Linked DNA regions of Homo sapiens: region 1 is linked to region 2. A link means that fine-mapping ties the variant in region 2 to the expression of a gene that starts in the linked region. Tissue or cell type: whole blood. Region 2 holds a variant in brackets; the other region holds the start of a gene. All regions are shown on one strand. Distances are between the middles of the regions.

Region 1 (2,624 bases), 24 kb after region 2:
AGAGCCTGGAATGCAGATCTCCACCTGGAAAGCAGAGACAACAGGCAAGCGGCCTCCCCGCAGAGTCCATGGCCCTCTCCGCCAGTCATCCGTCAGGCACCAACAAACAAAACATATGGAGGCTGTCTGAGTGCCTTCCCACGGAATTATCTAGAACTGTGCACCTTGCAATAGAGTGAAAGTAAGTGCTTGTGCTTAGGCCCCATTATACACACTGAATCTATTAGGACACATCTGATCTCAAAACAGGTTGATAGTCATAAATACTGTGATCAAAACAATGTACACTAAAAGTAAATATCTGATTTTAAAACTATAATGGTAAAGTACATTTAATCACAAATATGATAAATAGGCTGGGCACAGTGGCTCACGCCTGTAATCCCAGCACTTTGGGAGGCCGAAGCAGGTGGATCGCCTGAGATCAAGAGTTCCGGAGGCCGGGCGCGGTGGCTCATGCCTGTAATCCCAGCACTTTGGGAGGCCCAGGGTGGGCGGATCACAAGGTCAGGAGATCCAGACCATCCTGGCTAACACGGTGAAACCCCGTCTCTACTAAGAATACAAAGTTAGCCGGGCGTGGTGGCGGGCGCCTGTAGTCCCAGCTACTCAGAAGGCTGAGGCAGGAGAATGGCGTGAACCCGGGAGGCGGAGCTTGCAACGAGCCTAGATCGCGCCACTGCACTCCAGCCTGGGCGACAGAGTGAGACTCCGTCTTAAAAAAAAAAAAAAAAAAAAAAAAAAATAGTTCAAGACCAGTCTGGCCAACATGGTGAAACCCGGTCTCTACTGAAAATACAAAAAATTAGCCAGGGTGGTAGCGGGCGCCTGTAATCCCAGCTACTCGGGAGGCCGAGGCAGGAAAATCGCTTGAATCCCAGAGGTGGAGGTTGCAGTGAGCCGAGACCGTGCCATTGCACTCCAGCCTGGGCAACAACAGCGAAACTCCGTTTCAATATATATATATATGTTAAATCATAGATCCTTCTAATATACACTAAAACTAAACACACCACACACACACACACACACACCCCCCCAAGAAGTGACAGCACCGTGGGTCCCTACAGGGTCGAGGCTCGCACTTTGCAGGCTGTTGTGGGCTGGATGAGAGGCCACCTGGGGACGTCACCGAGCCAGCAGCGCTGACAGGAGGGCCCCCGTACCCACCGTTCTCTGGACTCAGAGCGCAGTGGCGGCGGCCCCTGCTCGTCGACAGACGTCCTCAGAGACCACGCGGCACCTTCAGGTGACAGGCCGAGGTCCGCGGCGGACCCGGTCCAGGAGGCTCAGCTCGCACGCCCTCGGATCGGGACCCGCTGAACCCGGGTGCCCGAGGGAGCTTGGCGGCCGCTCCAGGCGGGATCGCTGGGGGCTCCGGTCGCCCTGGTCCCCTCCCCTCCCCGGGCCGCACTCACCGAACTCCATCCAGTCCCACTCGCTGAGCGCGTCCATGTTGCGGCACAGGTCGTCCAGCACCCAGGAGGGCAGCTGGTAGATGTAGCAGGCCATGGCACGCTACGGGGCCGGCTCCGGCGCGGGACGACTGGGTCGGACACTGCGGGCTGCGGCTTCTCTAGCCAGGGGCGGACCGGCGGGGAAGTGGGCGGGGCGGGAGGGCACCAGCGTCCCCAGCGGCCACGGGCGGCACGACGGCCCCGCCGGCTCCACCCCAGCGCCGGCCAGAGAATCGGAACTGCGAGGGGAAACTGAGGCCCTGGTGGGAGAAGGCCACACGGGAATTCTGCCGCAGCGGCAGGAGGCCTTCTGACCCCACTTCCATCGGCACTACACCATGCATCATGCGCTCATCAAATACTCCATTAATTACCTACTGTATGCCAGGCAACTCCCTAGGTGTTGGTAATACCTGAATAAGAAACCCTACAGCCGGGCGCGGTGGATCACTCCTGTAATCCCAGTACTTTGGGAGGCCGAGGCGGACGGATCACGAGGTCAGGAGTTCGAGACTAGCCTGGCCAATATGGTGAAACCCCGTCACTACTAAAAATACAAAAATTAGCCGGGCACGGTGGCGCACGCCTGTAGTCCCAGCTACCTGGGAGGCTGAGGCAGAAGAATCGCTTGAACCCTGGAGGCGGAGGTTGCAGTAAGCCCAGATTGTGCCCTTGTACTCCAGCCTGGGTGAAGAGTGAGGCTCTGTCTCAAAAAAAAAAAAAAAAAAAAAAAAAAGCCTACAAAAGCCCTTGCTTTCATAAGACTTACAATCTAGGTGTGGAGAGAAAGACTAACAATAAATAATAAATATAGTATGTTACAGAGTGTCTTAAAGGTAATAAGCACTATTGCAAAAAAAAAAAAAAAGGAAAAAAAGTTGGTTAAAGGGAATCAGGAATTCAGATTGAGCATGGGGAATATTCTATTAAATAGGGTAGTCAGGTAGACTTTACTATAGTAGCTAATATGTATCGTGCAGCTACTATGTGCCAGGCACTGTTGTAGGTGCTGGGAATACCTCTGAAGAGAAGGACAAAATCCTTGTCCTGGAGGGAGACAGACAACAAGCAATAAAAATAGGCAGATAAGCTATGTTGGAGAATGAAAGTAGAAGCCTGGGCAACATAGGAAGATCTTATCTCTACAAAAAACTTTTTTTTTTTGAG
Region 2 (2,757 bases):
TTTCCAATGGAATAATGAATGCATGGAAGGAAAAGGTCAAGTGACCTGTCCTTAGCCACTCAGCAATTAACTTTAAGAAAACCTCTAGCTGGGCGTGGTGGTGGGCGCCAGTAGTCCCAGCTACTCGGGAGGCTGAGGCAGGATAATTGCTTGAGTCCACGAGGCAGAGGTTGCAGTGAGCCAAGCTCATGCCACTGCACTTCAGCCTGGACAACAGAGTGAGACTCTGTCTCACAAAAAAAAAAAAAAAAAGAAACAAAGAAAACCTCACCATCTCGTATGCTTTGAACCTTCCCAGTCTACAAGAAAAGTAGATAGGGCAATGTCTTTACCCATTTTCCAGATGGGGCAAGTGATGATGCAATCTAGTAACCTACCAAGAAGCGGGTAAGGTCAGGCAGACCTGAATTCCCATGTTGGCCTCATCACTATGGGCTATGTGGCCTTGGGAAATTACTTAATCTCTGAGCCTCAGTTTCCTCTTCTATAAAATAGGGATAATAAGAGTTGTGAGAAAAGATGCTTACCTGGCACATATCAGGTGCTAAACACAAGCTATTACTAGAACCCAGGTGCTCTGACCCCTGGCCTGTGGTTTTGGCCCAAAACAGTGTCGCCTCCAGTGGCAAGTCTGCAGTGGGCAGGGTCTGGATGTAGGCATGTTCTGTTGTGCCCTAGCAGCTGGAAAGGGGCGGAGGCAGGGCAGCCTTCCAAGAGAGCAGACACACAAGCCCTGTCTGGACCTGGCACAGCCCGGCCCCTTCCGGAGAGGAAGGGTTCATTCTCTTCTGTTTCATTTTACATAGCAGCCCCAAATTTTCCACTCAATGAGAGCCCAGCTCCAGGAAGGAAATGACTCTGGCCGAGATGCCAAACCCAAAGTTAGAAACTGTCAAGAGTTGCACAACCAAGAAGAAACTGCATGAAAATTGTGAAACTCAAGACTTCAGGTAGATAGTAGCAACAGATGGGAAGAGAAAACCTTGGTCACTTCCCAAATCCCTTCGGATTCCTGAAGTGTCTTCCTGTCCTACTCAGTTGACATCTGGAACCTCACAGGCCCAGCCCCCCAGTCCATATAGTGGCCAAAACAGGGGATACTCCCAGGTGGAAGCCCTCCAACGTCTTCCCTTCACTCTCCGGTGAAAGCAAACTCTTGGCGGTAGCCTGCATGGCACTGGGTGGCCTGACCCTGCCCTGTCCCCAGCCTCAGCCCACCCCCAGGCCTTTGTACATGCTGCTCCCCCCGGCTAGATATGTGTGTGTCGTCCTTCACTTCTTGGTCCACTATTCCTTACGGAGGAGGCTCAAGTTTCACTGCCTCAGAGAAACTTCCCCTGATGAGATCAAATCCTCTCATCTTGCACTCTCCTACCTGCCCTCCCCACCTGACCTACATTTATCCTTT[G/C]AGCACTCATACTGCAGTGGGTGACATGCATCTGTGTGTTAGCTTCTTATAATTCATCTCCCACTGGACTGTAAGCTCCATGAGGCCTGAGACCTTGGCTGTGTTTTCATGGTTGCATCCCCAGCATCTAGCGCACAGTAGGCACTCAGCAAATGTATTTTTAGGCCAGGCGCAGTGGCTCATGCCTATAATCCCAATATTTTGGGAGGCCAAGGCGGGTGGATCACTGAGGTCAGGGATTCAAGACCAGCCTGGCCAACACGGCAAAACCCTGTCTCTACTAAAAATACAAAAATTAGGCCAGGCACAGTGGTTCACACCCGTAATCCCAGCACTTTGGGAGGCCAAGGCAGGGGGATCACCTGAGGTCGGGAGTTTGAGACCAGCCTGACCAACATGGAGAAACCCTGTCTCTACTAAAAATACAAAATAAGCCGGGCGTGGTGGCGCATGCCTGTAATCCCAGCTACTCGGGAGGCTCAGGCAGGAGAATCGCTTGAACCCGGGAGGCAGAGGTTGTGGTGAGCCGAGATTGCGCTATTGCACTCCAGCCTGGGCAACAAGAGCGAAACTCCATTTCAAAAATAAATAAATACATAAATAAATAAATAAAATTACAAAAATTAGCCAGGCGTGGTAGTGCATGCCTGTAATCCCAGCTACTCAGAGGTTGAGGCACAAGGATCGCTTGAACCCGGGAGGCGGAGGTTGCAGTGAGCCGAGATCGAGCCATGGCACTCCAGCCCAGGTGACAGCGTGAGACTCCATCTCAAAAAGACAAAAAATGTATTTTTAGTTCCTTATTAACTCTCTTGTCCAGCTCCTGCATATCTAAATCCCTGTGGCAGGGCAGAGGGAGAATTTCACCTCACAGGCCAGTGCACCCAGTTTCCAGACTCCACCCTCAGAGCCAGAGCCATCTGCTCCCCACCATCTACAGGCTCAGCACCTAACCCAGCCTTTGGTGGCACTTAATCAGCTCTAGAGCTCAGCATTGATTATAGTGGATTCTCCTTTGCCTGGGAGCCACAGCTGGGATACTCACTTCTGCCTCAATTCCTGCTCTTAAGCCCCTAAGATGCCAGTATATAAGGTCTGGAGCCCGGCCCACAGTCCCCTCCTAAGCCTGGTCATCTGGAAAAATCCCTCTCTGGAGTAGGCCTCTCATCGTTAAGCCCCAGGGTGATGGCGGACCCTAGCCCCAGAAACAGACTCTTCTCACACTGGATGCTGGTCTGAACATACAAGTACTGCCTCTGACCCCCTAGGTTCTCCATCATGGGGCTTCCCTGAGATGCCCAGCACCCTCACCATGGTCACCATTTCCCCAGAGCAGTGACTCACAAAGT

The links. PIP is the estimated chance that this variant, and not a neighbour inherited with it, causes the effect.
Region 1: it holds the start of IRAK2, and the variant in region 2 is fine-mapped to the expression of IRAK2 in whole blood (TOPMed, PIP 0.97).

The regions. Positions count from the first base shown.
Region 1 is chr3:10,163,843-10,166,466 of GRCh38, reverse strand. It overlaps IRAK2 (interleukin 1 receptor associated kinase 2), which reads right to left and starts at 1,548. Exons shown (of 13, transcript NM_001570.4): 1 at 1,419-1,548. The coding sequence starts at 1,512. RefSeq lists silencers at 1,234-1,383, 1,584-1,713.
Region 2 is chr3:10,187,775-10,190,531 of GRCh38, reverse strand. All of the region lies in intron 2 of IRAK2 (interleukin 1 receptor associated kinase 2), which reads right to left. Among named protein-coding and RNA genes, the nearest start is that of IRAK2, 24 kb to the right of the region's middle. RefSeq lists an enhancer at 850-929. The variant G/C (reference allele first, on the strand shown) is at 1,409.